Regions from separate parts of the Homo sapiens genome. Here region 2 is linked to region 1. The links come from fine-mapping of genetic effects on gene expression. A gene starts in region 1. The other region holds a variant in brackets. All regions are shown on one strand. Distances are from middle to middle. Region 1 holds the start of VKORC1 (vitamin K epoxide reductase complex subunit 1). Region 2 overlaps ZNF668 (zinc finger protein 668).

The links.
Region 2: its variant is fine-mapped to the expression of VKORC1 in whole blood (INTERVAL, PIP above 0.99).

The regions. Positions count from the first base shown.
Region 1 is chr16:31,087,413-31,103,222 of GRCh38, reverse strand. It overlaps VKORC1 (vitamin K epoxide reductase complex subunit 1), which reads left to right and starts at 8,426. Exons shown (of 3, transcript NM_024006.6): 1 at 8,426-8,666; 2 at 9,802-9,911; 3 at 11,881-12,369. The coding sequence starts at 8,494. The coding sequence ends at 12,089. LOC124903680 (zinc finger protein ENSP00000375192-like) reads left to right here and starts at 7,218. Exons shown (of 1, transcript XM_047435012.1): 1 at 7,218-8,339. The coding sequence starts at 7,845. The coding sequence ends at 8,339. PRSS53 (serine protease 53) reads left to right here and starts at 14,280. Exons shown (of 11, transcript NM_001039503.3): 1 at 14,280-14,471; 2 at 15,397-15,417; 3 at 15,524-15,686. The coding sequence starts at 14,414. RefSeq lists enhancers at 7,258-7,437, 7,953-8,002, 8,053-8,102, 8,133-8,312, 9,493-10,201 and 1 more.
Region 2 is chr16:31,048,098-31,063,907 of GRCh38, reverse strand. ZNF668 (zinc finger protein 668) reads left to right here. Exons shown (of 3, transcript NM_024706.5): 2 at 1-95; 3 at 1,628-3,061. The coding sequence ends at 2,840. Among named protein-coding and RNA genes, the nearest start is that of ZNF668, 18 kb to the left of the region's middle. RefSeq lists an enhancer at 1-258. The variant G/A (reference allele first, on the strand shown) is at 7,727.

The sequences.
Region 1 (15,810 bases):
CTGACTCAAGCGATCCTCCTACCTCAGCATCCCGAGTAGCTGTGACCACAGGTGCCTGCCACCACACCCAGCTGATTTTTAAAAAAATTTTGTAAGGACGGGATCTCCTTGTGTTGCTCAGGCTGGTAACGATGGATCTTCTGGCCTGAAGCGATCCTCCCATCTCAGCTTCCCAAAGTGTTGGGATTACAGGCGTGAGCCACTGGGCCCAACCAACTTCTCTCTTTTTTTTTTTTTTTTTTTTTGAGACAGAGTCTTGCACTGTAACCCAGGCCAGAGTGTAGTGGCACAATCTCGGCTCACTGCAACTTCTGCCTCCCAGCTTCAAGCAATTCTCGTGCCTTGGCCTCCCAAGTAGCTGGGATTACAGGTGCATACCACCATGCCCAGCTAATTTTTGTATTTTTGTAGAGATAGGGTTTCACCATGTTGGCCAGGCTGGCTTCAAACTCCTGACCTCAGGTGATCCATCTGCCTCGTCTTCCCAAAGTGCTGGGATTACAGGCATGAACAACAGAGACAAGCAGGGCCTGGCCAACTTCTTACCATATAACTTTGACACTTCTTGTATCAAGAGGTGAGGGAGTCTATGTTCCCTCCCCTTGGAACTGGGAAGGCTTGTGATTACAGTGGAACAGATGCTATATGACTTCTGAGTTTAGATCATAAAATATGTAGCTTCCACCTGGCTTTCTGGAGCACATGTGCTAGTCCTGAGCTGCCAGGTGGGCAGTCTGACTGCCCTATATTATTATTATTTTATTTTTAAATTGAGACAGAGTCTTGCTCTGTGACCCAGGCTGGAGTGCAGTGGTGCGATCTTGGCTCACTGCAGCCTCCACCTCCCAGGTTCAAGGGATTCTCCTGCTTCAGCCTCCCAAGTAGCTGGGATTACAGGCATGCACCACCATACCCGGATAATTTTTACTAGAGAAGGGTTTCTCCATGTTGGCCAGGCTGGTGCCCTGTACGAATTATTTATTGCTGTGTAACAAATTACCTCCAAAACATAGCACCATGCTGGAGTGCAATGGCACGATCTTGGCTCACTGCAACCTCTGCCTCCCGGGTTCAAGCGATTCTCCTGCCTCAGCCTCCCTAGTAGCTGGGATTACAGGCGCCCACCACCATGCCCAGCTAATTTTTTGTATTTTTAGTAGAGACGGGGTTTCACTATGTTGGCCAGGCTGGTCTCCATCTCCTGACCACAGGTGATCCACCCACCTCAGCCTCCCAAAGTGCTGGGATTACAGGCGTGAGCCACACCATACCCAGCTCAAACATAACATCTTAAAAACATTTTTTTAAATAGAGACAAGGTCTCACTATGTTGCCCAGGCTGTTCTTGAACTTGAACTCCTGAGCTCAAGTGATCCTCCCACTTCGGCCTTCCAAAGTGCTGGGATTACAGGTGTGAACCACTGCGCCTAGCCAATATCTTAAAACAATAAACACTGGCCGGGTGTGGTGACTCACGCCTGTAATCCCAGCATTTTGGGAGGCGGAGGCGGGCGGATCACGAGGTCAGGAGATTGAGACCATCCTGGCTAACACGGTGAAACCCTGTCTCTACTGAAAATACAAAAAAATTAACTAGGCGTGGTGGTGGGTGCCTGTAGTCCCAGCTACTCAGGAGGCTGATTCAGGAGAATGGTGTGAACCTGAGAGGCGGAGCTTGCAGTGAGCCAAGATTGTGCCACTGTGCTCCAGCCTGGGCAATAGAGCGAGACTCTTTCTCAAAAAAAAAAAAAAAAAAAAAAAACAATAAACACTTATCACACACAGTTTCCTTGGGTTAGGAATCTAGGGGGTTCTGGCTCAGGGTCTCTCATGAAGTGCAGTCAAAATGTTGGCCAATGCTACCGTCATCTGAAGGCGTGACTGTTTTACAGAATCTGATTCCAAGGTAGCTCCCTCACATGCCCAGCAGGTTACTGCTGGTTGTTGACAGAAGGCCCGTCATGCTCAGGGTTGGGGTCCAGCCCCAGCTGAGGTGTGAGAGGAAGCAGTGGACGTGAGGCAGGGAGCTAGAAGAACACTCGAGAGACAGCAGGTAAATGAGACATGGCTTTATTCAGCAGCTCTCTCATCATCAACATCTTACTCTCGCACTGTCTGCTCTGTCTCAGCTGCTTACTCCGGCAGCTCCCACACACACACAGCTGTGTGGCCAGCTCTCCCTTCAGGGTCAGCAGCTTCACTCTTTCTTTTCTTTTCTTTTTTCTTTTTTTCCTGAGATGGAGTCTCGCGCTGTTGCCCAGGCTGGAGTGCAGTGGTGTGATCTCGGCTCACTGCAACCTCTGCCTCCTGGGTTCAAGCAATTCTCCTGCCTCAGCCTCCTGAGTAGCTGGGATTACAGGCATGCACCACCATGGCCAGCTAATTTTTGTATTTTTAGTTGAGAAGGGGTTTCACCATGTTGACCAGGCTGGTCTCAAACTCCTAACCTTGTGATCCACCTGCCTTGGCCTCCCAAAGTGCTGGGATTATGGGCATGAGCCACCACACCCCACAGCCTTACTCTTTCTCCCTCTGGGCATGAGCTAGCTGAGCTGTGTCTTGGCTTCCCCGAGATGGACAGCTCTGGCTTTCTCTCTTTCTCTGGGTACAAGCACCTGCACAAGAGCCATGTCCCATGTCAAGCCATGTTGGGCCGAGCCCTGTGCACAGTGTCAGCAGGGCAATTATACCTTTTACAGACAACAGTGGCTCAGAGCCAAGTGATGAGCCTTCCCATGTTATGGCTACACGGCTGTGATAACAAGTGGAGCTATATGCCTGCACTCTAAACTCACTGAGTCACTCTGGATGTTTACTTTGGCCTATGCCCACTTGACTGCAGCACACCCACGTTTCTTACAGGGCCTCAGTTCCTCACTAAGGAGACCTCTCTCCCTAGGGTTACTTGAGTGCTTTCATATCATGGTAGCTGGCTTTGTCTAGAATGAGTGATCTACAAAGGAGCAAGATGGAAGCCACAATATCTTCATGATTTAGCCTCTAAAGTCACACACTGTCATTTCTGCATTATCCCAATGGGCCAGTTCAGCCCCTTTCAATGTGAGAAGAGACTTCACAATGGTATCAATACCAGGAAGCAGGAATCACTGAGGACCATTTTGGAAGCTGACTATTAAAGCCTTAAGGCTGCCATGCTGTGAGGAAGCCCAAGCTAGCCCATGCAGAGGACAACATAGATAGGTTCGGAGACTACTCAGAGAAAGGGAGAGAGAATGCTAGGTTATCTTTCAGCTGTTTTAGCTGCTTATTGTTCCAGCTTTAGCCACCATCTGACTGCAATTGTATGAGCCAGAAATAGCCAGGTAAAATTGTCTTCCCAAATTCCTAGTGCACAAAAACTGTCAGAGGCTGGGGGCAGTGGCTCACTCCTGTAATCCCAGCAGCACTTTGGGAAGCCAGGGTGGGAGAACTGCTTGAGCCCAGGAGTTAGAGGCAACATAACAACAACTCATCTCTAATGAAAAAAAAAAAAAAAGAAAGAAAAAGGCCAGGCACAGTGGCTCACGCCTGTAATCCCAGCACTTTAGGAAGCCAAGGAGGGCGGATCATGAGGTCAGGAGTTTGAGACCAGCCTGGCCAATATGGTGAAACCCCGTCTCTACTAAAAACACAAAAATCAGCCACGCATAGTGGCTGGTGCCTGTAATCACAGCTACTCAGGAGGCTAAGGCAGGAGAATCACTTGAATCCGGGAGGCAGAGGTTGCAGTGAGCCGAGATTGCACCACTGCATTTCAGCCTGGGCAGCAGAGTGGGACTGTCTCACATTAATTAATTAATTGATTAAATGCTAGAAGAAAATATGGTCAAAATCTTTTATAACTCTTGGAGTGAGGAAGGCAATCTCGGCTCACTACAACTTCCACCTCCCGGGTTCAAATGATTCTCCTGCCTCAGCCTCCTGAGTAGCTGGGATTACAGGCACCCACCACCATGCCCGGCTAATTTTTGTATTTTTAGTAGAGACGAGGTTTCGCCATGTTGGCCAAGCTTGTCTTAAACTCCTGACCTCAGGTGATCCACCCACCTCAGCCTCCCAAATTGCTGGGATTACAGGCATGAGCCACCATGCCCCGCCTAATTTTAAAAATGTTTATAAAGACAGAGTCTTACCACGTTGTCCAGACCTGTCTCAAACTCCTGGGCTCAAGTCATTGTCTTGTCTCAGCCTCCCAAAGTTCTGGGACTACAGGTGTGCACCACCACACCTGGCTAATTTTGTTTATTTTTTATAGAGTGAGGGTCTCCCTGTGTTGTCCAGGGTGTCTCAAACTCCTGGGCTCAAGTGGTCCTCCTGCCTCAGCCTCCCAAAGTGCTGGGATTATAGGCATAAGCCACTGCACCTGGCCCCAGTGTGTGTCTTCTGAGGCTAAGTCATAAAGAGATTGCGGCTTCTATTTTGCTTCCTCTTAGATCACTCATTCTGGGGGAAACCAACAATAAATAACAGGAACACACCAGGAGATCAGAGAAAGCTGAGATACAGGCCTAATGCCCAGTCCTCTGTATTCATTTCTAATTGCTGCTGTAACAAGTTACTGCACATTTAATGATGTAAAACAACACAAATTTATCTTACAGTTCTGTAGCTTAGAAGTCTGACAGAGTCTCACTGGGCTGAAATCAAGATGTTGATAGTTCCTTCCCGGTGACTCTAGAGTGAGAATCCAGTTCTTTACCCTTTCTTGCCTTTAGAGGCCACCCGTATTTATTAGCTCACAATCCCCTTCCTCCATCTTCAAACCAGAAACATTGCAGCTCTCTGTGTCTTTTTTCTTTACTCACATCTCCCTCTGACTTTCTTCTGCCATCCTCCTTCATTTTTTAAGGACCCCTGTGGGCCAGGCATGGTGGCTTATGCCTGTAATCCCAGCACTTTGAGAGGCGGAGGCAGGCGGGTCACCTGAGGTCAGGAGTTCCAGACCAGCCTGGCCAACATGGCAAAACCCCATCTCCACTGAAAATACAAAAATTGGGCCAGGCACGGCGGCTCACACCCGTAATCCCCATACTTTGAGAGGCTGAGGCAGGTGGATCACTTGAGGTCAGGAGTTCAAGACCAGCCTGGCCAACATGGTGAAATCCCGTCTCTACTAAAAAAAAAAAAAATTACAATAATTAGTCAGGCGTGGTGGCCAGCACCTATAATCCCAGCTACTTGGGAGGTTGAGGCACAAGAATTGCTTGAACCCGAGAGGGGGAGGTTGCAGTGAGCTGAGATTGCACCACCGTACTCCAGCCTGGATGACAGAGCAAGACTCTGTCTCAAAATAAAAATTAAGATAAATAATAAAAAATAAATAAAAATCAGCAAATTAGGCCAGGTGTGGTGGTGGCTCATGCCTGTACTCCCAGCACTTTGAGGTGGGAAGGTTGCTTGAAACCAGAAGTTTAGACCAGCCTGGGAAACAAAGTGAGACCCCATCTCTACAAAAATAAAAATAAATTAGCCAGGTGTGGTGGGACGTACTTGTACTCCTAGCTACTAGGGAGGCTGAGGTGCAAGAATCGCTTGAACCTGGGAGACGGAGGTTGCAGTGAGTTATGACAGTGCCACTACACTCCAGCCTGGGTGTCAAGGGTCTTTGAAAAAATAAACAAAATAGGCTGGGCGTGGTGGCTTACACTTGTAATCCCAGCACTTTGGGAGGCTGAGGCAGGCAGATCACAAAGTCAGGAGTTCGAGACCAGCCTGGCCAACACAGTGAAACCCCGTCTCTACTAAAAATACAAAAATTAGCCAGGCATGGTTGCACGCGCCTGTAGTCCCAACTGCTCGGGAGGCTGAGGCAGGAGAATGGCTTGAACCTGGGGGGGGGCGGAAGTTATAATGAGCCAAGATTGTGCCACTGCACTCCAGCCTAGGCAACAGAGCGAGACTCCGTCTCAAAAATAAAAATAAAAATAAATCAATAGAGCCTGGTATGATGGCTCACGCCTATAATCCCAGCACTTTGGGAGGCCCAGGTGGGTGGATCATCTGAGGTCAGGAGTTTGAGACCAGCCTGACCAACATGGAGAAACCCCATCTCTACTAAAAATACAAAAAATTAGCCAGGCGTGGTGGCACATGCCTATAATCCCAGCTACTCAGGAGCCTGAGGCAGGAGAATCGCTTTAACCGGGGAGGTGGAGGTTGCGGTGAGTCGAGATAGCACCATTGCATTCTAGCCTGGGCAACAAGAGCAAAACTCCATCTCAAAAATAAATAAATAAATAGATAGATAGGCTGGGCACGGTGGCTCACGCCTGTAATCCCAGCACTTTGGGAGGCCGAGGTGGGCGGATCACCTGAGGTCAGGAGTTCAAGACCAGCCTGGCCAATATAGCGAAACCCTGTCTCTACTAAAAATTTAAAAAATTAGCCAGGCATGATGGCGGGTGCCTGTAATCCCAGCTACTCGGGAGGCTGAGGCAGGAGAATCTCTCGAACCTGGCAGGCGGAGGTTGCAGTGAGCCGAGATCACACCATTGCACTCCAGTTGGGCAACAAGAGCGAAACTCCACCTCAAAAACAAAATAAAATAAAATAAAATCAGGAGATTGGTCAGCTTAATTCCATCTGCAACCTTAATTCCCTTTTGGCCATTTAACCTATCATATTCACAAGTTCCAGGGATTCATGCAGGGACATCTTTGGTGACCATTATTCTGTCTACCACACTCTCTAGAAGAGAGTAGATGTGAGAAACAGCATCTGGAGAGGGAGGAGCCAGCAGGAGAGGGAAATATCACAGACGCCAGAGGAAGAGAGTTCCCAGAAGGGTAGGTGCAACAGTAAGGGATCCCTCTGGGAAGTCAAGCAAGAGAAGACCTGAAAAACAACCATTGGCCGGGTGCGGTGGCTCACGCCTATAATCCTAGCATTTTGGGAGGCCGAGGTGGGTGGATCACTTGAGGTCAGGAGTTTAAGACAAGCCTGGCCAACATGGTGAAACCCTGTCTCTACTAAAAATACAAAAATTAGCCAGACATGGTGGCAGGCACCTGTAGTCCAAACTACTTGGGAGGCTGAGGCACGAGAACCACTTGAACCCTGGAGGCGGAAGTTGCAGTGAGCCGAGATGGCACCGCTGCACTCCAGCCTGGGCGACAGAGTGAGACTCCGTCTCAAAATAAGTAAATAAATAAATAAATAACCATTGGGTCTAGCGTCTTGGTGACACCAGCCACTAGGTGTCAGGGCAATGCTGGAGGCAGCAGCTAGTTTATGGCGTGGGCAGCAAGGAAGAAGTGAGGAAGTAGAGACTGGGAGTGTAGAATCTTTCCAAAAACTTGAATGTGGAGGGGTAGATGGGATAATGCCGGGAGAGGAGGCTGGTGAAGGACCTCTTAGTGAAGGGAGATTTGTTGCTGTTTCTGAGATGGGAAAGAGAAACAAGTTGCAGTGTAGATGGGGAGGATGGAGAGGTTGAAGGTGTAGGAGAGATGGGTCACCATCAGATGGGACGTCTGTGAAGGAGAGACCTCATCTGGCCCACAGCTTGGAAAGGAGAGACTGACTGTTGAGTTGATGCAAGCTCAGGTGTTGCCAGGCGGGCGCCATGATAGTAGAGAGGTTAGGATACTGTCAAGGGTGTGTGTGGCCAAAGGAGTGGTTCTGTGAATGTATGGGAGAAAGGGAGACCGACCACCAGGAAGCACTGGTGAGGCAGGACCCGGGAGGATGGGAGGCTGCAGCCCGAATGGTGCCTGAAATAGTTTCAGGGGAAATGCTTGGTTCCCGAATCGGATCGCCGTATTCGCTGGATCCCCTGATCCGCTGGTCTCTAGGTCCCGGATGCTGCAATTCTTACAACAGGACTTGGCATAGGGTAAGCGCAAATGCTGTTAACCACACTAACACACTTTTTTTTTTCTTTTTTTTTTTTGAGACAGAGTCTCACTCTGTCGGCCTGGCTGGAGTGCAGTGGCACGATCTCGGCTCACTGCAACCTCCGGCTCCCCGGCTCAAGCAATTCTCCTGCCTCAGCCTCCCGAGTAGCTGGGATTACAGGCATGTGCCACCACGCCCGGCTAATTTTTGTATTTTTAGTTGAGATGGGGTTTCACCATGTTGGCGAGGCTGGTCTTGAACTCCTGACCTCAGGTAATCCGCCAGCCTCGGCCTCCCAAAGTGCTGGGATTACAAGCGTGAGCCACCGTGCCCGGCCAACAGTTTTTAAATCTGTGGAGACTTCATTTCCCTTGATGCCTTGCAGCCGCGCCGACTACAACTCCCATCATGCCTGGCAGCCGCTGGGGCCGCGATTCCGCACGTCCCTTACCCGCTTCACTAGTCCCGGCATTCTTCGCTGTTTTCCTAACTCGCCCGCTTGACTAGCGCCCTGGAACAGCCATTTGGGTCGTGGAGTGCGAGCACGGCCGGCCAATCGCCGAGTCAGAGGGCCAGGAGGGGCGCGGCCATTCGCCGCCCGGCCCCTGCTCCGTGGCTGGTTTTCTCCGCGGGCGCCTCGGGCGGAACCTGGAGATAATGGGCAGCACCTGGGGGAGCCCTGGCTGGGTGCGGCTCGCTCTTTGCCTGACGGGCTTAGTGCTCTCGCTCTACGCGCTGCACGTGAAGGCGGCGCGCGCCCGGGACCGGGATTACCGCGCGCTCTGCGACGTGGGCACCGCCATCAGCTGTTCGCGCGTCTTCTCCTCCAGGTGTGCACGGGAGTGGGAGGCGTGGGGCCTCGGAGCAGGGCGGCCAGGATGCCAGATGATTATTCTGGAGTCTGGGATCGGTGTGCCCGGGGAACGGACACGGGGCTGGACTGCTCGCGGGGTCGTTGCACAGGGGCTGAGCTACCCAGCGATACTGGTGTTCGAAATAAGAGTGCGAGGCAAGGGACCAGACAGTGCTGGGGACTGGGATTATTCCGGGGACTCGCACGTGAATTGGATGCCAAGGAATAACGGTGACCAGGAAAGGCGGGGAGGCAGGATGGCGGTAGAGATTGACGATGGTCTCAAGGACGGCGCGCAGGTGAAGGGGGGTGTTGGCGATGGCTGCGCCCAGGAACAAGGTGGCCCGGTCTGGCTGTGCGTGATGGCCAGGCGTTAGCATAATGACGGAATACAGAGGAGGCGAGTGAGTGGCCAGGGAGCTGGAGATTCTGGGGTCCAGGGCAAAGATAATCTGCCCCCGACTCCCAGTCTCTGATGCAAAACCGAGTGAACCGTTATACCAGCCTTGCCATTTTAAGAATTACTTAAGGGCCGGGCGCGGTGGCCCACTCCTGTAATCCCAGCACTTTGGGAGGCCGAGGCGGATGGATCACTTGAAGTCAGGAGTTGACCAGCCTGGCCAACATGGTGAAAGCCTGTCTCTACCAAAAATAGAAAAATTAATCGGGCGCTATGGCGGGTGCCTTAATCCCAGCTACTCGGGGGGGCTAAGGCAGGAGAATCGCTTGAACCCGGGAGGCGGAGGTTTCAGTGAGCCGAGATCGCGCCACTGCACTCCAGCCTGGGCCAGAGTGAGACTCCGTCTCAAAAAAAAAAAAAAAAAAAAAAAAAAAGAGACTTACTTAAGGTCTAAGATGAAAAGCAGGGCCTACGGAGTAGCCACGTCCGGGCCTGGTCTGGGGAGAGGGGAGGATAGGGTCAGTGACATGGAATCCTGACGTGGCCAAAGGTGCCCGGTGCCAGGAGATCATCGACCCTTGGACTAGGATGGGAGGTCGGGGAACAGAGGATAGCCCAGGTGGCTTCTTGGAAATCACCTTTCTCGGGCAGGGTCCAAGGCACTGGGTTGACAGTCCTAACCTGGTTCCACCCCACCCCACCCCTCTGCCAGGTGGGGCAGGGGTTTCGGGCTGGTGGAGCATGTGCTGGGACAGGACAGCATCCTCAATCAATCCAACAGCATATTCGGTTGCATCTTCTACACACTACAGCTATTGTTAGGTGAGTGGCTCCGCCCCCTCCCTGCCCGCCCCGCCCCGCCCCTCATCCCCCTTGGTCAGCTCAGCCCCACTCCATGCAATCTTGGTGATCCACACAGCTGACAGCCAGCTAGCTGCTCATCACGGAGCGTCCTGCGGGTGGGGATGTGGGGAGGTAACTAACAGGAGTCTTTTAATTGGTTTAAGTACTGTTAGAGGCTGAAGGGCCCTTAAAGACATCCTAGGTCCCCAGGTTTTTTGTTTGTTGTTGTTTTGAGACAGGGTCTGGCTCTGTTGCCCAAAGTGAGGTCTAGGATGCCCTTAGTGTGCACTGGCGTGATCTCAGTTCATGGCAACCTCTGCCTCCCTGCCCAAGGGATCCTCCCACCTTAGCCTCCCAAGCAGCTGGAATCACAGGCGTGCACCACTATGCCCAGCTAATTTTTGTTTTTGTTTTTTTTTGGTAGAGATGGTGTCTCGCCATGTTGCCCAGGCTGGTCTCAAGCAATCTGTCTGCCTCAGCCTCCCAAAGTGCTGGGGGGATTACAGGCGTGAGCTACCATGCCCCACCAACACCCCAGTTTTGTGGAAAAGATGCCGAAATTCCTTTTTAAGGAGAAGCTGAGCATGAGCTATCTTTTGTCTCATTTAGTGCTCAGCAGGAAAATTTGTATCTAGTCCCATAAGAACAGAGAGAGGAACCAAGGGAGTGGAAGACGATGGCGCCCCAGGCCTTGCTGATGCCATATGCCGGAGATGAGACTATCCATTACCACCCTTCCCAGCAGGCTCCCACGCTCCCTTTGAGTCACCCTTCCCAGCTCCAGAGAAGGCATCACTGAGGGAGGCCCAGCACCATGGTCCTGGCTGACACATGGTTCAGACTTGGCCGATTTATTTAAGAAATTTTATTGCTCAGAACTTTCCCTCCCTGGGCAATGGCAAGAGCTTCAGAGACCAGTCCCTTGGAGGGGACCTGTTGAAGCCTTCTTTTTTTTTTTTTTTAAGAAATAATCTTGCTCTGTTGCCCAGGCTGGAGTGCAGTGGCACAATCATAGCTCACTGTAACCTGGCTCAAGCGATCCTCCTGAGTAGCTAGGACTATAGGCATGTCACTGCACCCAGCTAATTTTTTTTTTTTTTTTTTTTTTTTTTTTGCGACATAGTCTCGCTCTGTCACCAGGCTGGAGTGCAGTGGCACGATCTTGGCTCACTGCAACCTCTGCCTCCCGGGTTCAAGCAATTTTCCTGCCTCAGCCTCCTGAGTAGCTGGGACTACAGGCGCGTGTCACCACGCCCAGCTAATTTTTGTATTTTTAGTGGAGACAGGGTTTCACCATGTTGGCTAGGATGGTCTCAATCTCTTGACCTGGTGATCCATCCGCCTTGGCCTCCCAAAGTGCTAGGATTACAGGCGTGAGTCAACCTCACCGGGCATTTTTTTTTTGAGACGAAGTCTTGCTCTTGCTGCCCAAGCTGGAATGTGGTGGCATGATCTCGGCTCACTGCAACCTCCACCTCCTAGGTTCAAGCGATTCTCCACCTTAGCCTCCCCAGCAGCTGGGATTACAGGTGCCCATCAACACACCCGGCTAATTTTTGTATTTTTATTAGAGATGGGGTTTTGCCATGTTGGCCAGGCTGCTCTCGAACTCCTAACCTCAGGTGATCCACCCCCATTGGCCTCCCAAAATACTGGGATTACAGGCATGAGCCACCGTGCCCAGCTGAATTTCTAAATTTTTGATAGAGATCGGGTCTTTCTATGTTGCCCAAGCTGGTCTTGAACTCCTAGCCTAAAGCAGTCTTCCCACCTCGGCCTCCCAGAGTGTTTGGAATACGTGCGTAAGCCACCACATCTGCCCTGGAGCCTCTTGTTTTAGAGACCCTTCCCAGCAGCTCCTGGCATCTAGGTAGTGCAGTGACATCATGGAGTGTTCGGGAGGTGGCCAGTGCCTGAAGCCCACACCGGACCCTCTTCTGCCTTGCAGGTTGCCTGCGGACACGCTGGGCCTCTGTCCTGATGCTGCTGAGCTCCCTGGTGTCTCTCGCTGGTTCTGTCTACCTGGCCTGGATCCTGTTCTTCGTGCTCTATGATTTCTGCATTGTTTGTATCACCACCTATGCTATCAACGTGAGCCTGATGTGGCTCAGTTTCCGGAAGGTCCAAGAACCCCAGGGCAAGGCTAAGAGGCACTGAGCCCTCAACCCAAGCCAGGCTGACCTCATCTGCTTTGCTTTGGCATGTGAGCCTTGCCTAAGGGGGCATATCTGGGTCCCTAGAAGGCCCTAGATGTGGGGCTTCTAGATTACCCCCTCCTCCTGCCATACCCGCACATGACAATGGACCAAATGTGCCACACGCTCGCTCTTTTTTACACCCAGTGCCTCTGACTCTGTCCCCATGGGCTGGTCTCCAAAGCTCTTTCCATTGCCCAGGGAGGGAAGGTTCTGAGCAATAAAGTTTCTTAGATCAATCAGCCAAGTCTGAACCATGTGTCTGCCATGGACTGTGGTGCTGGGCCTCCCTCGGTGTTGCCTTCTCTGGAGCTGGGAAGGGTGAGTCAGAGGGAGAGTGGAGGGCCTGCTGGGAAGGGTGGTTATGGGTAGTCTCATCTCCAGTGTGTGGAGTCAGCAAGGCCTGGGGCACCATTGGCCCCCACCCCCAGGAAACAGGCTGGCAGCTCGCTCCTGCTGCCCACAGGAGCCAGGCCTCCTCTCCTGGGAAGGCTGAGCACACACCTGGAAGGGCAGGCTGCCCTTCTGGTTCTGTAAATGCTTGCTGGGAAGTTCTTCCTTGAGTTTAACTTTAACCCCTCCAGTTGCCTTATCGACCATTCCAAGCCAGTATTGGTAGCCTTGGAGGGTCAGGGCCAGGTTGTGAAGGTTTTTGTTTTGCCTATTATGCCCTGACCACTTACCTACATGCCAAGCACTGTTTAAGAACTTGTGTTGGCAGGGTGCAGTGGCTCACACCTGTAATCCCTGTACTTTGGGAGGCCAAGGCAGGAGGATCACTTGAGGCCAGGAGTTCCAGACCAGCCTGGGCAAAATAGTGAGACCCCTGTCTCTACAAAAAAAAAAAAAAAAAAAAATTAGCCAGGCATGGTGGTGTATGTACCTATAGTCCCAACTAATCGGGAAGCTGGCGGGAAGACTGCTTGAGCCCAGAAGGTTGAGGCTGCAGTGAGCCATGATCACTGCACTCCAGCCTGAGCAACAGAGCAAGACCGTCTCCAAAAAAAAACAAAAAACAAAAAAAAACTTGTGTTAACGTGTTAAACTCGTTTAATCTTTACAGTGATTTATGAGGTGGGTACTATTATTATCCCTATCTTGATGATAGGGACAGAGTGGCTAATTAGTATGCCTGAGATCACACAGCTACTGCAGGAGGCTCTCAGGATTTGAATCCACCTGGTCCATCTGGCTCCAGCATCTATATGCTTTTTTTTTTGTTGGTTTGTTTTTGAGACGGACTTTCGCTCTTGTTGTCCAGGCTGGAGTGCAATGGCACAATTTCGGCTCACCACAACCTCCACCTCCCAGGTTCAAGTGATTCTCCTGCCTCAGCCTCCCGAGTAGCTGGGATTACAGGCATGCGCCACCAGGCCTGGCTAATTTTGTATTTTTAGTAGAGACAGTGTTTCTCTATGTTGGTCAGGCTGGTCTCGCACTCCCGACCTCAGGTGATCTGCCTGCTTTGGCCTCCCAAAGTGCTGGGATTACAGGCGTGAGCCACCATGCCCGGCCAGCATCTATAATATATGCTAAACCTTACCCACAGCTGCCTCTGTCTTGGGGTCAGGGTTCTTGAATGGTCTGGGCCAGCCTGAGTTAGGAGTGGGAAGAGGAAGAGGAGGCACGCGCCAAAGTGTTCTTCCCGCCTGACCGAGTCCTCTGCGCCTATGAGGAAGGTGGGCACCGCTGTCACCCTGTTTCCCAGGAAGCCAGCAGGCCCAGGGAGATACTGGGATTTGCCAAAGGCTCACAGCGAGCAAGCAGCAGTGGGTGCTGGCTCCTCACCACTCAGCCTGGCACACACTGTCTCTGAGCAGACCTGGGAGAAGGCATGTGAAACCCACCTAGCCCTGGCTGGAAGAGAAGTGGGGGAGTGGAAATGAAAAGTGGGGACTGGGAGGAGCTGCCCACGTGCCCTCCATGGTTCCAGGATGGCACTTTCATGCTGGGAGTGAGCTTGCCCTGTGCCAGGCTGTCATTGAGACGTTTTCCATTCAACAACTGTTTCTCAGACAAGGCACAGGCAGGTTAGCTCTCCCAGGCCACTCAAGTAGTAAGGAAACAGATTTAAACCCAGACAATTTGGCTCCACGGCTAAGGCCCAGAGAGGGGTGGTGACAAGCCTAGGGTCACACAGCCACAGCCCCAGAGCTAGGAACTGCTGGCTAGGGCAAGCAGACAGCTGAATCCTAGCCAACTGGAGGTGGAGCAGAGGTGGAGCCAGGGAGACCCAGGTGGCCTCTCTCAGAGTGGAGCACAGGTGGCAGAGTGGCCCGGGGCAGCATGAAGTGGTGCTGGGGCCCAGTGCTGCTCATCGCGGGTGCCACAGTCCTCATGGAGGGTAAGCCGCCATGTGCTGGGGTATGGGTGTGGCCTGGTGGGGGCTCAGGGGCCATCTCTGCCCCAGCAGTCCCTGCTTCTTGGTGGGGGGACCGCCTGTGGGCGACAGTCCACCAGTGGGGATGTAACTCCGTAGGACTCTGTGGGGTGGTATATGTGGCCACCTGTGTCAACATGGATGAGATTTTCTCGGGCCAGCTGCAGTTTGCGTTGGCGGGGCCTGTGGTCTTGTGTGTGTGTGAGGTGCTGCCTGCGTGTGTCCTGTGCCTGCCTCCCCCTCGACTTCCACAATGACGTCAGGCAAACTCTGGGCTCCTCTGGCCTCAGTTTCCCTTTCTTTTCATCCATCCTCTGGGCAGCCTGGCTCAGCTGTCTCATGGGGTGCCTGTGTGCCTGTGAGGGGCGGTGGGCAGGGGCCCTCTCTCTGGCGGGCTCTCAGACAGTTTCTGGGAAGGTGGGGAAGACTGAGTCTCTAGACCAGGGTGAGGTAAGTCTCCATTTCTTGGGGCCCTCCCCACTTGGAAATGATGCAGGCCTCTAATCCTTCCTCTTAGGCCTCTGCTGCTAAGAGGACAATTAAGCTAATGCTCTCTACACACACAGGCCGCCTGGCTGACTCAGTGGCGGGGGCAGGAGTTGGGGGTTCTGAAGCCTGGAGGAGGGCTGGCCTACTCCCAAGCTGAACCCCAAGCCCCAGAGTGCTGAGCACAGCTGAAGGAGAATTAATTACTGAGTGTGCACACTGAATAGGTTCCAATAAAAGCTGTCTCGGCCTCATATAAATATTTTCATTCTGGGAGGGGCTGGTAAGGTAATCAGAGTCACAGGCAAGGACCCTGGGCCCGCCCCCCAGCCCATCCCCTCTCCTCCCCAAAGCTAGGCAGGCCTGGAGTCCCTGCATCTTACCTGTGTCTCTCTCTTCCCAGGTCTTCAAGCCGCTCAGCGTGGTAAGGTCTGGGGACACGGGGCCTAGGTCTTACTTGGGTCTGGGTTGGGACTGGGGTGAGGTCAGGACAGGTATCTGCTGTCAGTGTGACTAACTCCTTTCCACAGCCTGTGGACAGCGTGGCCCCGGCCCCCCCAAGCCTCAGGAGGGCAACACAGTCCCTGGCGAGTGGCCCTGGCAGGCCAGTGTGAGGAGGCAAGGAGCCCACATCTGCAGCGGCTCCCTGGTGGCAGACACCTGGGTCCTCACTGCTGCCCACTGCTTTGAAAAGTAAGTCATGGCTGGGGTCAGGCAGGGTCTCCGGCTCTGGGGAGTGGACAATTTGTCTCAAGCCCCACAAGGCTAGTCCCTGCCTCTAGAGTAATAATAAAGAACCATTTACTGAGAATCTGCC
Region 2 (15,810 bases), 39 kb after region 1:
AAGCACCGGCGTACTCACGCTGGCCTGCGGCCCTACAGCTGTGAGCGTTGCGGCAAAGCCTATGCGGAGCTCAAGGACCTCCGCAACCATGAGCGGTGAGGGTGCCTTCCGGGGCAGGGCGCCTTCCGGGGCAGGGCGACAGCGTTGCTGCAGCCAATGGGGCCTGGGTTTGAGTCTCAGGGTAAAGTGAGCCAATGGGAAGGTGGGCATGGCAGATCCAAGGGGAGGGGCTAGGCATGTGGGAGAAATTGGTGCCCCTGATTGGGCAGAGGTGGCAACCACCTTGAGGTTGATCTCTGAGAATGGGATTGGGTCAGATTGGCCTCCGTTGTAGGCCAGCTGGAAAGGGGGCGGGGTTTGGAGTTGGGCAGTTCTGAGGGTCTTTTGTGGAGACCAGGAGGTGTGAGTGGGGCCTGGTTTGTCTAGGTCATTTTTTTTTTTCTTTTTCTCAGCCTCTACATTAATGACATGTTTCTAGGCTGGGCACAATAGCTCACGCCTATAATTCCAGCACTTTGGGAGGCTGAGGCAGGAGGATTGCTTGAGCCCAAGAGTTCAAGACCAGCCTGGGCAACACAGCAAGCCTCGTCTCTATAAAAATAAAAAAATTACCCGAGCGTGGGGATGTACACTTCTAGTCCCGGGTACTTGGGAGGATAAGGTGGGAGGATGGCCTGAGCCTGGGAGGTCGAGGCTGCAGTGAGCTATGGTCAGGCCACTGCATTCCAGCCTGGGGAACAGGAAAAAAAAGGCGGAGGACACGTATCTTGGTTTTCTGTTTTGTTTTGTTTTGTTTTTGTTTGTTTGTTTTTTGAGACGGAGTTTTGATCTTGTTGCCCAGGCTAGAGTGCAATGGCGCGATCTCGGCTCACCGCAACCTCCGCCTCCCGGGTTCAAGCGATTCTCCTGCCTCAGCCTTCCGAGTAGCTGGGATTACAGGCATGCGCCACCATGCCCGGCTAATTTTGTATTTTTAGTAGAGACGGGGTTTCTCCGTTTTGGTCACACTGGTCTTGAACTCCTGACCTCAGGTGATCCGCCCGCCTCGGCCTCCCAAAGTGCTGGGATTACAGGCGTGAGCCACCGCGCCTGGCCATGTCTTGGTCTTTTTTTTTTTTCTTTTTCTTTTTTTTTTTTTTTTTTTGAGACGGAGTCTCGCTCTGCCGCCCAGGCTGGAGTGCAGTGGCAAGATCTCGGCTCACTGCAAGCTCCGCCTCCCGGGTTCACGCCATTCTCCTGCCTCAGCCTCCCGAGTAGCTGGGACTACATGCACCCACCACCACGCCTGGCTAATTTTTTATAGTTTTAGTAGAGACGGGGTTTCACCGTGTTAGCCGGGATGGTCTCGATCTCCTGACCTCGGCCTCCCAAAGTGCTGGAATTACAGGCGTGAGCCACCGCGCCCGGCCCATATCTTGGTCTTTAATGTGCAGAGACAGGTCTTTGGAATAGAGACACCCAGCCAGCCTGAAGGCTTCTTCCTCTGGGGTGCAGCCATGTGGCTCTTAGGGGATTAAGCCTAGGCCCCCACGAACGTTTGGGGAGCCCCTAAAGTACAGCCCAGACAGGCAGTGGGGTCACGTTATGGGTCTGTCGCCTTCATGCCAAGTCCTCCACACCCCCGCAGGTCCCACACCGGCGAGCGCCCCTTCCTCTGCTCCGAGTGCGGGAAGAGCTTCTCCCGCTCATCCTCGCTCACGTGCCACCAGCGCATCCACGCGGCACAGAAGCCCTACCGCTGCCCGGCCTGCGGCAAGGGCTTCACGCAGCTCAGTTCCTACCAGAGCCACGAGCGCACGCACTCGGGGGAGAAGCCCTTCCTGTGCCCGCGCTGCGGCCGCATGTTCTCCGACCCCTCGAGCTTCCGTCGCCACCAGCGCGCCCATGAAGGGGTGAAGCCATACCACTGCGAGAAGTGCGGCAAGGACTTCCGGCAGCCGGCGGACCTGGCCATGCACCGGCGTGTGCACACAGGCGACCGGCCGTTCAAGTGCCTGCAATGTGACAAGACGTTCGTGGCGTCCTGGGACCTCAAGCGGCACGCGCTGGTGCACTCTGGCCAGCGGCCCTTCCGCTGTGAGGAGTGCGGGCGAGCCTTCGCCGAGCGTGCCAGCCTCACGAAGCATAGCCGGGTGCACTCGGGGGAGCGCCCCTTCCACTGTAACGCATGTGGGAAATCCTTTGTGGTGTCGTCGAGCCTGAGGAAGCACGAGCGGACCCATCGAAGCAGTGAGGCCGCGGGTGTGCCCCCTGCACAGGAGCTGGTGGTGGGGTTGGCGCTGCCTGTGGGCGTGGCAGGTGAGAGTTCAGCCGCCCCGGCAGCAGGGGCGGGGCTGGGGGACCCTCCAGCAGGGCTGCTAGGGCTGCCCCCGGAGTCAGGTGGTGTGATGGCCACACAGTGGCAGGTGGTGGGCATGACGGTGGAGCATGTGGAATGCCAAGATGCTGGTGTCCGGGAGGCTCCTGGTCCCTTGGAAGGGGCAGGCGAGGCGGGGGGTGAGGAGGCTGACGAGAAGCCCCCCCAGTTTGTGTGCCGAGAGTGCAAGGAGACCTTCTCCACAATGACGCTGCTGCGTCGGCACGAGCGCTCACACCCGGAGCTCCGGCCCTTCCCCTGCACCCAGTGCGGCAAGAGCTTCTCTGACCGGGCTGGGCTGCGCAAACACAGCCGCACTCACAGCTCAGTGCGCCCCTACACCTGCCCCCATTGTCCCAAGGCCTTCTTGAGTGCCAGCGACTTGCGCAAGCATGAACGCACCCACCCTGTGCCCATGGGGACCCCCACACCCCTGGAGCCCCTGGTGGCTTTGCTAGGAATGCCTGAAGAGGGGCCGGCCTGAAGCCCATGACCCCCCAGCACCACACTCCGGGAGCCCAGCCCCCATCGGGGGCTTCCTGTACCTCCTTTTGCCTGGCTCTGCTCTTTAGACTCCAGATCCCTACCCCTCAGCAACTAGCTCCCCTGTCGGCCAGCTAAGAGAGCTGGGACAGTGGAGGCTGGCAGAAGCTGAGACGTGACTGTCTAGGAGTAACACTCATTAAAGCTTTCATTTTGGCACCAGGTCATCTTCTGTGTTCTGGTTGGGAGTGAATGGGTGGGAGTTTGGGCATCAGGTAAGGTTCAGTGGAGACCCCTGGATCCACAGATTTGAAACTAGAAGGGTCTTTGGATGCAGTTTCCCAAAGTATGTTTCAGGATGTCTAGTGACAAAAGGTTTCATGGGCAGGTAAGAAAGGAAATTCCCTGTGCCCTTCTTGGGATTCTTGGTGATCAAAACTTGGTGATCAAAAGTGGGCTGGGGTGGCCCTGGAGGAGCAGTCCCTCTGGCAGCTGAAGCTGGCATCTCCAGGCCCACTGCCCCTTTGTTGTGAGGGCCTGGGACTTAGGAATCTGCCCACAAAAGGGGTATTGTTCATTAAAATCTACCCATTTCTTCATAGAATATACGTCTTCAATTGCCTGGTGGTGGTGGCTCACACCTGTAATCCCAGCACTTTGGGAGGCTGAGGCAGGCAGATCACCTGAGGTCAACAGTTCTGAGACCAGCCTAGTCAACATGGTGAAACCCTGTCTCTATTAAAATTACAAAAATTAGCCAGATGTGGTGGTGCATGCCATAGTCCCAGCTACTCGGGAGGCTGAGGCAGGAGAATCACTTGAACCCGGGAGGTGGAGGTTGCAGTGAGCCAAGATCCCGCCACTGCACTCCAGCCTGGGCTACAGAGCAAAACTCTGCCTCAAAAAAAAAAAAAAAAATTATCACAAGCATTGATAAGTCCAGCAGTGAACACATCTGTTTAGCTTTGTTTAGCCCATACTTATTTGATTATGGAAACCTTTTACTGAGTAGTTCTACTTTTATCCTTTCATAGATAATAAACTGCAGATAAAAATTAGTTATCTTTCCTGTATACTAAAGTAACAAATTAGAAAATATACTTGGTGGAAAAAGGATTCCCAATTCACAACAAAATCCATGGACCATGAAGGAATAAACCTCACAAGAAATGTGCAAAACCTGTATGAAAAGAAATGATAGCTCCAACCTGAAGGATATGAAATAAGACCTAAGTAAATGGAGACATATACCATATACCTGAATGGAAAGACTGATTATTAAAAGATGTCCACCAGGCCCGCTGGCTTACAGCTTTAATTCCAGCATTTTGGGAGGCTGAGGTGGGAGGATCAACTGACGTCAGGAGTTCGAGACCAGCCTGGCCAACATGGTGAAGCCCTATCTCTACTGAAAAATACAAAAATTAGTCGGGTATAGTGGTGGTTGCCTCTAATCTCAGCTACTCGGGAGACTGAGGCAGGAGAATCGGCTTGAACCCGGGAGGCGGAGGTTTCAGTGAGCCGAGATTGTGCCACTGCACTCCAGCCTGGGCGACAGAGTGAGACTCCACCTCAAAAAATAAATAAATAAATAAATAAATAAATAATGTCGAATGGGCTGGGTACAGTGGCTCATGCCTGTAATCCCAGCACTTTGGGAGGCCGAGGCAGGCAGATCACCTCAGGTCAGGAGTTCAAGACCAGCCTGGCCAACCATAGCCAACATGGTGAAACCCCATCTCTACTAAAAATACAAAAATTAGCCAGGCATGGTGGCGGGTGCCTGTAATCCCAGCTACTTGGGAGGCTGAGGGACAAGAATCCCTTGAACCTGGAAGGTGGAGGTTGCAGTGAGCCGAGATGGCGCCCACTGCACCCTAGTCTGGGCGACAGACCAAGACTCCATTTTAAAAAAAAAAGTCGATTCTCCCTAGTTTAGTCCTTAAATTCATTGCCATCCTAAAGGATTATTTATTTATTTATTTAGAGATAGAGTCTTGCTCTATCACCCAGGCTGGAATGAAGTGGTGCAATCTCAGCTCACTGCAACCTCTGCCTCCCGGGTTCAAGCTATTTATTTTTGAGACTGAGTTTTGCTCTTGTTTCCCAGGCTAGAGTGCAATGGCACGATCTCAGCTCACTGCAACCTCCACCTCCCAAGTTCAAGCAATTCTCTTGCGTCAGCCTCCTGAGTAGCTGGGAGGGACTACAAGTGCCTGTCACCACGCCCGGCTAATTTCTTGTATTATTTTTTCTTTTTCTTTTTTATTTTTTAGATGGAGTTTCACTCTTGTTGCCCAGACTGGAGTACAATGCCACGATCTCAGCTCACTGCAACCTCTGCCTCCTGGGTTCAAGCGATTCTCCTGCCTCAGCCTCCCGAGTAGCTGGAACTACAGGTGCATGTCACTATGCCCGGCTAAGTTTTGTATTTTTAGTAGAGACGGGGTTTCACCATGTTGGCCAGGCTTGTCTCGAACTCCTGACCTCAGGTGATCCACCCGCCTTGGCCTCCGAAAGTGCTGGGATTACAGGCGTGACCCACCACGCCCAGCCAAGATTTTTAAACATAACGTGAAAATTCAAACTTCAGATACAACACAATATAATTCAAAGTTCACATATAATACAATATCATTTATTTTTTCTTTTGGGATAAGGTCTCATTCTGTCAGGCTAGAGTGTGGTGGTGTGATCATGGCTCACTGCAGCTCCGACTTCCCAGGCTCTACAAGCAATCCTCCTCCCTCAGCCTTGAGAGTAGCTGGGACTACAGGCACACACCAGCACAGGTGGCAAATTTTTCTATTTTTGTGCAGAGACAGGGTTTCACCATGTTGCCCAGAATGGTCTCAAACTCCTAAGCTCAACCAATCCTCCTGCTTTGGCTTCCCAAAGTGCTGGGATTACAGGCATGAGCCACCGAGTTGGGCCAATATGGTTTTTTAAAACAGGCCGGGCACGATGGCTCACACCTGTAATCCCAGCACTTTGGGAGGCCGAGGTGGGTGGATCATCTGAGGTCAGGAGTTTCAGAACAGCCTGGCCAACATGGCGAAACCCTGTCCCTACTGAAAAAAAAAAAATAACAAAAATTAGCCAGGCATGGTGGCACGTACCTGTAGTCCCAGCTACTCGGGAGGCTGAGGCGGGAGAATCGCTTGAACCCGGGAGGCAGAGGTTGCAGTGAGCCGAGATCGCACCACTACACTCCAGCCAGGGTGACAGAGCGAGACAACATCTCAAAAAAAGAAAACAAAAACAAAAACCAGATAATGTGTTCGACATTCTTCATGTTTTATTTATTTTGAGACAGGGTCTCGCTCCATTGCCTGGGCTGGAGTACAGTGGCATGATCACAGCTCACTGCAGCCTTGAACTCCTGGGCTCGAGTGATCCTCCCTCCTCAGCCTCCTGAGGAGCTGGTCTACTGGTGCACCCAGCTAAATTTTTTAACTTTTTGTAGAGGCAGGGAGTTGCTACATTGCTACGCTGGTCTTCAGCTCCTGGGCTCAAGTGATCCTCCCACCTCAGTCTCCCAAAGTGCTGGGATTACAGGCGTGAGCCACTAAACCCAGCCTGTTTGACATAATAGATAATCAAACACCAGGCTGGGTGCAGTGGCTCACGCCTGTAATCCCAGCACTTTGGGAGGCTGAGGCGGGCAGATCATGAGGTCAGGAGATCGAGACCATCCTGGCTAACATGGTGAAACCCCGTCTCTACTAAAAATACAAAAAATTAGCCGGGCGTGGTGGTGGGTGCCTGTAGTCCCAGCTACTTGGGAGGCTGAGGCAGGAGAATGGGATGAACCCAGGAGGCAGAGCTTGCAGTGAGCTAAGATTGCACCACTGCACTCCAGCCTGGGTGACAGAGCGAGACTCTATCTCAAAAAAAAAAAAAAAAAAAAAAAAAAGATAATCAAACACCAAAGTACTAGGGGAAAAAACACATTGTTTGAGCCCAGGAGCCGGAGGTTGCAGTGAGCCGAGATTGTGCCACTGCACTCCAGCCTGGGTGACAGAGCAAGACTCCGTCTAAAAAAAAAAATTAGCCTGGCATGGCAGCACACACTTGAGAGGCTGAGGCAGGAGAATTGGTTGAACCAGGGAGGCGGAGGTTGCAGTGCGCCGAGATCGTGAAACTGCACTCCAGCCTGGGTGACAGAGAGGGAGACTCTGTCTAAAAAAAAAAAAAAAAAATTATAGTTACCTTTACCTTTAACTGCTCTATGGATCACAACCTGGACATTACACAACATTAAGTGTTCCCTTTGAGATATTCCTTCAGACTCTGGGAGGCCAAAGCAGGTGGATCACTTGAGGTCAGAAGTTCAAGACAGCCTGACCAACATGGTGAAACCCCGTCTCTACTAAAAAAATACAAAATTAGCCGGGCGTGGTGACGCATTCCTGTAATCCCAGTTACTTGGGAGGCTGAGGCAGGAGAATCATTCAAATCCAGGAGGCGAATGTTGCAGTGAGCCAAGATTGCACCATTGCACTCCAGCCTGATCAACATGGTGAAACCCCGTCTCCACTGAAAATACAAAAATTAAGGCTGGGCACCGTGGCTCACTCCTGTGATCCCAGCACTTTGGGAGGCCGAGGGTGGGGCGGGGGCCGATCACGAAGTCAAGAGATCGAGACCACCCTGGCCAACATGGTGAAACCCTGTCTCTACTAAAAATACAAAAATTAGCTGGGTGTGGTGGCACGCACCTCTAGTCCCAGCTACTTGGGAGGCTGAGGCAGGAGAATTGCTTGAACCCGGGAGGTGGAGGTTGCAGTGAGCCAAGATCATGCCACTGCACCTCTAGCCTGCGACCCCCTGCACCTCTAGCCTGGCGACAGAGAGAGACTCCATCTCAAAAAAAAAAAAAAAAAA[G/A]AAGAAGAAGAAGAAAAGAAAAGAGATTCCTTCAGGTCCTCATGGAACTACTGACTCAGCTGACCTGAAGGACCCCACAAGGAGCTAATTCCCCCAAAAACGCAGCTTCTACATCCTTCCCCCAATCAATCAATGACCCAGTTGCCCAAAACCTTACCCTCCACAATCCCCTACCCTCCACAGTCCCCTTAGAAACCCTCTCCCAGAATTGCTCGGGGAGATAGATTTGAGGGCCTCTTCCCATCTCTGCACTAGGTGCCCTGCACCAGTAACTCTCTCTGCTGCATCCCTATTGTCTTGGTGTAATGGAGCTGTAGCTGCACAGCAGGCAAAGGAACCTGCAGGTCCCCTAACAATGAAAGGTAAAAAGGAGTCACCAATCCAAAGCAACTGCAAATCCAGCTGGGAAATTCCTTTAGGCTTCCAGGCCTGGAAATGGTTTTCTATGGCTCTTTTCTGCCCTCTTGGCTCTCAGCTCTGCCCTCTGTGTCAGCCATCTTTTCTTTCTTTTTTTTTTTTTGAGATGGAGTCTCGCTCTGTCGTCCAGGCTGGAGTGCAGTGGCGTGATCTCAGCTCACTGCAAGCTCTGCCTCCCGGGTTCACGCCATTCTCCTGCCTCAGCCTCCTTAGTAGCTGGGACTGCAGGCGCCCGCCACCACACCCGGCTAATTTTTTCTATTTTTTAGTAGAGACGGGGTTTCACCGTGTTAGCCAGGATGGTCTTGATCTCCTGACCTCGTGATCTGCCACATCAGCCTCCCATGTGTCAGTCATCTTTTCTAAGAAGCCATTCCTAACCATCCAACAGAAAAGCTGTCTCCAACCCCCTATCACTTTTTGTCACATCACACTGTTTAATTTCTTTTCTTTTCTTTTTTTTTTTTTTTTTGAGACAGAGTCTTGCTCTGTTGCCCAGGCTGGAGTGCAGTGGTGTGATCTCGGCTCACTGCAAGCTCCGCCTCCCAGGTTCATGCCATTCTCCTGCCTCAGCCTCCCAAGTAGCTGGGACTACAGGCACCCGCCACCACACCCAGCTAATTTTTTGTATTTTTAGTAGAGACAGGGTTTCACCATGTTGGCCAGGCTGGTCTCGATTTCTTGACCTCGTGATCTGCCCTCCTTGGCCTCCCAAAGTGCTGGGATTTTTTTTTTTTTTTTTGAGACGGAGTTTTGCTCTTGTTGCCTAGGCTGGAGTGCAGTGGCACAATCTCAGCTCATGGCAACCTCCACCCCTGGGTCCAAGCGATTCTCCAGCCAATTTCTTTCTTTCTTTTTTTAGATGGATTCCCACTCTGTCGTCAGGCTGGAGTGCAGTGGCGTGATCTCGGCTCACTGCAACCTCCACCTCCCGGGTTCAAGGCATTCTCCTGCCTCAGCCTCCCGAGTAGCTGGGACTACAGGCACGCGCCACCACACCCAGCTAATTTTCGTATTTTTAGTAGAGACAGGGTTTCACCATGTTGGCCAGGCTGGTCTCGATTTCTTGACCTCGTGATCTGCCCTCCTTGGCCTCCCAAAGTGCTGGGATTACAGGCATGAGCCACTGCACTTGGCCTAATTGCTTTTTTTTTAAGACAGGGTCTCACTCTGTCTCCTAGCCTGTAGTGCAGTGGCATGATCTTGGCTCACTGCAACCTCCACCTCCCCACTCAAGCAATTCTTATTCTTGTGCCTCAGCCTCCCGAGTAGCCGGGACTGCAGGCATGCACCACCACACCTGGATAATTTTTTTGTATTTTTAGTAGAGACAGGGTTTTACCATGTTGGCCAGGCTGGTCTCAAACTCCTGACCTCAAATGATCCACCCGCCTCAGCCTCCCAAAGTGTTGTGATTACAGGTGTGAGCAACTGTGCCTGGCCTTAATTGTTTTGATAATACACGTTATAGCTTAGAATAGCTTAGCTCTTGGCCGGGCATGGTGGCTCACGCCTATAATCCCAGCACTTTGGGAGGCCGAGGCGGGTGGATCATGAGGTCAGGAGATCGAGACCATCCTGGCTAACACGGTGAAACCCCGTCTCTACTAAAAATACAAAAAATTAGCTGGGCGTGGTGGCGGGCGCCTGTAGTCCCAGCTACTCAGGAGGCTGAGGCAGGAGAATGGCGTGAACCCAGGAGGTGGGGCTTGCAGTGAACCGAGATTGCGCCACTGCACTCCAGCCTGGGCGACAGAGGGAGACTCCGTCTCAAAAAAAAAAAAAAAAAAAAAAAGAATAGCTTAGCTATTTACTTGTCCTCTTCACTAGAATATAAACTCCATGAAAGCAGAGGCCTTGTCTGTATTTTCACCTCTATTTCTCTAGCACCTAACACAATGCCTGGCACACAGGTCTTGCTCAATACATATTTTATGAATAAATGAGTGAAGGAGTTAAGTGTGGAATGGCATGGTACAGTAGGCTGAATAGAGAACCCCCCTAAATATGTCTACGTCCTATTCCTGGAATCTGTGAATGTCACGTTATATGGTGAAAGGGATTTTGAAAATGTGAAGGATCCTGAGATGGAGAGATTATTCAGGATTATCCAAGAGGGCGGTATGTAATCATGAACATCCTCCTAAGAGGCACACAGGAGGAATAAGTCTCAGAGGAGAAAGTGGAGTGATGATGAAGGCAGAGATGGATTCATGTGCTTTCCAATGGAGGATGGACCCACCAGCCAAGGAATACAGGTAGCCTTTCTAAACTGAAAGAGGGTGGGGTGCAACGGCTCACACCTGTAATCCCAGACCTTTGGGAGGCTGAGGCAGGAGGATCTCCTGAATCCAGGACTTTGAGACCAGTCTGGGCAATGGAGTGAGACCTCATCTCTACAAAAAATAAACAAAATTAGCAGGGCGTGGTGGCGTGAGCCTGTGGTCCCAGCTACTGAGAAGGCTAACACGGGAGGATCGCCTGAGCCTGGGAGATGGAGGCTGCAGTGAGCTATGATTGCACCACTGCACCCCAGCCTGGGTAACAGAGCGAGACCCTGTCTCAAAAAAAAAAAAAAAAAAAAGAGCTGAAGAAGGCAAGGAAACATTGTCCACCAGAGCCACCAACAAAAACCAGCCCTGCTGACACCAGACATTGGCTCAATGAAACTGATTTTGAACTTCTGACTTCCAGAACTGTAAGAAAGTAAATGTGTGTGGTTTTAAACCACTGAGTGTATGATAATTGGTTAAATCAGTAACAGAAAATTGATACCGTTTGAGGCCAAGGCAGTGGCTCACGCCTATAATCCCAGCACTTTTGGAGGCTGAGGTGGGTGGATCACCTGAGGGCAGGAGTTCAAGACCAGCCTGGCCAACATGGGGAAATCCTGTCTCTACTAAAAATACAAAAATTAGCTGGGCATGGTGGAGCACGCCTGTAATCCCAGCTACTCAGGAGGCTGAGGCAGGAGAATTGCTTGAACCTGGGAGGCAGAGGTTGCAGTGAGCCGAGATGGCAACACTGCACTCCAGCCTAGGGGATAGAGGGAGACTGTCGAAAGAAAGGAACAAAGGAAGGAAGGAATGAAGGAAGGAAGGAAGGAAGGAGGGAGGGAGGGAGGGAGGGAGGGAGGAAGGAAGGAAAGGAAGGAAAAATTGATACAGTTGGGATGGGTTAACATTCAATGTGTGTGGTGGCAACAGCTTATGGTCCCCCAGTATCCATTCTACCCTTCTCCCAGAGTAACTGAACTTTTATCTGGGCAAAAAGCTGCTCAGGGTAGAGATTCTATTTCTCAGCAACACTTTCATCGGGATGTAGCCATATGACTACATCCTGGCTATGGGGATTAGAGCAAAAATGATCTGTACTTCTGAATCATGCTCTTTAGGGCAAAGGGCAAACCATCACCCCTCAGAAGGGCCAGACTGTGGAAGTGGTGGTGAATCATATTGGATCATGTGGGTGAGGGCAACGCCCTAGGGATGGAACAGCAACAAGATAAAAAAGACCTGGAGGGGCAGAGTGGCTCATGCCTGTCATCCCAGAGCTTTGGGAGGGTGAAGCAGGAGGATCACTTGAGGCCAGGAGTTTGAGACCAGCCTGGGCAACATAGTAACACCCCACCTCTACAAAAAAGAAAAAGAAAAATTAGCCAGGCGTGGTGGCATGTGCTTGTAGTCCCTGCTACTTTGTTGGGGCTAAGGCAGGAGAATCGCTGGAGCCCAGGATTTTGAGGTTACAGTGAATTATGATTGCACCACTGCACTCCAGCCTGAATGGTGCAGAAAATTGTCTCTATTAATGGTAGTAATGAATCAATGAATGAATGAATGATACAAAAAATCTGGCTCCTAATGATTTCATGGAAAGATCCATCATACTAACTTGGACTTTTATAGAAGAGAGAAATAAACTTCTATCTTATTTAAGCCACAGTTAATTTGGGTCTCTATTATATGCAACAATACACATACACAAACTAATTCAGAATTTTCACTTACTAACCATTATGATTCTTTTTTGTTTTGTTTTGTTTTTGAGACGGAGTTTTACTCTTGTCGCCCAGGCTGGAGTGCAGTGACACAATCTCGGTTCACTGCAACCTCTGCCTCCAGGGTTCAAACAATTCTTCTGCCTCAGCCTCCCAAGTAGCTGGGATTTCAGGCATCCACCACCACGCCTGGCTAATTTTTTTTTTTTTTTTAGTAGATATGGGTTTCACCATGTTGATTAGGTTGGTCTTGAACTAACCTCAGGTGATCCGCCCCCTCGGCTTCCCAAACTGCTGGGATTACAGGTGTAAGGCACCATGCCTGGCCAAACATTATGTTCTTTTCTCTTTTTTTTTTTTTTTTTTTTTTCAGAGTCTCACTCTCTAGCCCAGGTTAGAGTGCAGTGGCGTGATCTGGGCTCACTGCAACCTCCACCTCCCAGGTTCAAGCGATTCTCCTGCCTCAGCCTCCCGAGTAGGTGGGACTACAGGTGTGCACCATGAGGTGTAGCTAATTTTTGTATTTTTAGTAGAGATGGGGTTTCATGGTGTTGACCAGGCTGGTCTCTCAAGTGATCCACCTGCCTCAGCCACCCAAAGTGTTGGGATTACAGGTGTGAACCACCATGCCCAGCTTTTTTATTTCTTTTTCCCCCCCTTTTTAAAAATAGAGCTAGGATTTTGCCATGTTTCCTAGACTGGTCTCAAACTCCTGGGCTCAAGCAATCCACCCGCCTCTGCCTCCCAAAGTGCTGGGATTACAGGCGTGAGCCCCCGTGCCCGGCCTGGACAGCTTCTTTTTAATGCATCTCAGGATGCATGTGAGATTGATATTTACTAGGCACCATGTTGATGCTAGAAGGTCTGGGCCCCACCAGATGTTTTTACAGTTCCTGTGAGCAGCTGCTACTAGTTGCCAAATGCCAGCAAGAATCAAGAAGACTCGGCTTGGCTGGGCACGGTGGTTCATGCCTGTAATCCCAGCACTTTAGAAGGCCAAAGCTGGCGGATGGCCTGAGGTCAGGAGTTCCAGACCTACTCAGGAGGCTGAAGCACAATATTTGCTTAAATCCAGAAGGCAGAGGTTGCATTGATCCGAGATCGCACCACTGCACTCCAGCCTGGTGACAGAGCAAGACTCCATCTCAAAAAAAAAAAAAAAAAGAAAGAAAAAAAGAAATAGGCTCACTGGTTAGGACCTGAGGGTGAACAGCTCTGAAGAGGAGCAAAGGCGGAGACTTCCTAACATCAGCATAGCTCATTATGGTGTGTCAGTTGTCATGGTGATGGGAAAGGATACCTGAGCAGGGTATCCCACAGGGAGGCTGCATCTATCAGCTGGGATCCAGTTACGCTGCAGTAATAGCAGCCCCCAAATCTTAGGGGCTCACAACACCATGTTGATTTCTCACTCATATCCATGTCCTCCATGGGACCACTCTGTTCTATGCTATCTTCATTCTAGAGCCCTGTCTGAAGGAAAAGTCTCAAGCTGGAACTTTCCGTCTCCAGACACCGAAGAGAGGAAAGGTGGCAGACCCCATGACGGCTTTTAAAGCTTCCTCGTGGAAGTGGCACATGTCATTTCCACTCAAAGTCCATGGTCTAAAGCAAGCCACATAGCCATACCTGATGTCAGTGAACTGGGGACAAAAAACCATTCTATGTAGCAGGTCCCCAAAGAGAGGGCCAGTGAATACATGTGATTTTTTTTTGTTGGTTGTTTTTTTAGAGTCAGTGTTTTGTTGTGTTGCCCAGGCTGGAGTGCATAGGTGCATGGTGCAATCATAACTCACTGCAGCCTCTACCTCCTGAGCTTAAGTGATCCTCCCACCTCAGCCTCCTAAGTAGCTAGGACTACAGGCAAGCACCACCACGCCCAGCTAATTTTTTTTTATTGTTTTATTTTTTGTAGAGATAGGGTCTCACTATGTTGCCCATGCTGGTCTCAAACTCCTGGCCTCAAGTGATCCTCCTGCTTCACCCTCCCAAAGCACTGGGATTATAGGCGTGAGCCACCACACACATCCCAGTGAATGTTTTTGAACAATTATAAAATCTTCCCCCGTCTGCCCTCTTCCTTACAAATACTGCCTTTGCATTTTCTTCCATATGCAAAATAAATGCATCCCCTTCCCAAGGGAGACCACCTAAGTGACCCATCTGACATGGAATCAGCCTCAAGCCCAGGATCTCTAATAGTCTCTTCTATATCAGGTCCAGATGTGGCTTCTCTTGATTCAGAGACCTATGAGCTACAAAATAAGAGAGAGACAGAGACAAGTTACCTGTGCCCCATTTCTACACACACACACACACGAACACATCCAACATATAAAGCAGAACAAGGACAGGAGAACAGCAGAGCACACTCCCGTTCAGAAGGAAGGACAGGGCCCGGTGCGGTGGCTCATGCCTGTAATCCCAGCACTTTGGGAGGCCGAGGCCGGTGGATCACCTGAGGTCAGGAGTTTGAGACCACCCTGGCCAACACGGTGAAAACCTGTCTCTACTAAAAATACAAAAATTAGCCAGGCGCAGTGGCTCACGTCTGTAATTCCAGCACTTTGGGAGGCCGAGGGGGGCAGATCACAAGGTCAGGAGTTCAAGACCAGCCAGGCCAACATAGTGAAACCCGGTCTCTACTAAAAATACAAAAAGTTAGCCGGGCGTGGTGGCGGGCCCCTGTAGTCCCAGCTACTCAGGAGGCTGAGACAGGAGAATCGCTTGAACCCAGGAGGCAGAGGTTGCAGTGAGCCGAGATCGTGCCATTCCACTCCAGCCTGGGCGACAGTGCAAGACTCCGTCTCAAAAACAAAAACAAAAAACCCCAAAACCAAAAATTAGCCAGGCGTGGTGGCATGCACCTGTAGTCCCAGCTACTCGGGAGGCTGAGGCAAGAGAATCGCTTGAACCCAGGAGGCAGAGGTTGCAGTGAGCCGAGATAGTGCCATTGCACTACAACATGGGTGACAAAAGTGAAACTCTGTCTCAAAAAAAAAAAAAAAAAAAAAAAAGGAAGGAAGGACAGGAGACACACAGCAGGCTCTGGGCCCCACTAAGTCTAAAGTGCTGCTGGGCAGATGTTGAGAAGAACCCCCACTTTTCCCTGGGAGTGGGAAGAGTTCCCTAGTTCATTCTTCACCATGTTCTTGGCTCTGCCCTTAGAGTAAACCACCCTTTTCCACTTATTCTCCTTGGCCACAATTGAGAGGACACTGGTGGTTATGTCTTTCTGAAGTAGAGTAGCTTTCTCAGTCTCCTTCATGCCCATAGAAATTTGGAGACCCATGGCCAGGTGCGGTGGCTCACGCCTATAACCCCAACACTTTGGGAGGCCGAGGCGGGCAGATCACGAGGTCAGGAGATCGAAACCATCCTGGCGAACACAGTGAAACCCTGTCTCTACTAAAAATACAAAAAAAAATTAGCCGGGCATGGTGGCGGGCGCCTGTAGTCCCAGCTACTCGGGAGGCTGAGGCGGGAGAACGGCGTGAACCTGGGAGGCAGAGCTTGCAGTGAGCCGAGATCACACCACTGCACTCCAGCCTGGGTGACAGAACGAGACTCCGTCTCTAAAAAAAAAAAAGAAATTTGGAGACCCAGGCCGGGCATGGTGGTTCACATCTGCAATCACAGTATTTTGAGAGGCTAAGGCAGGAGGATCACT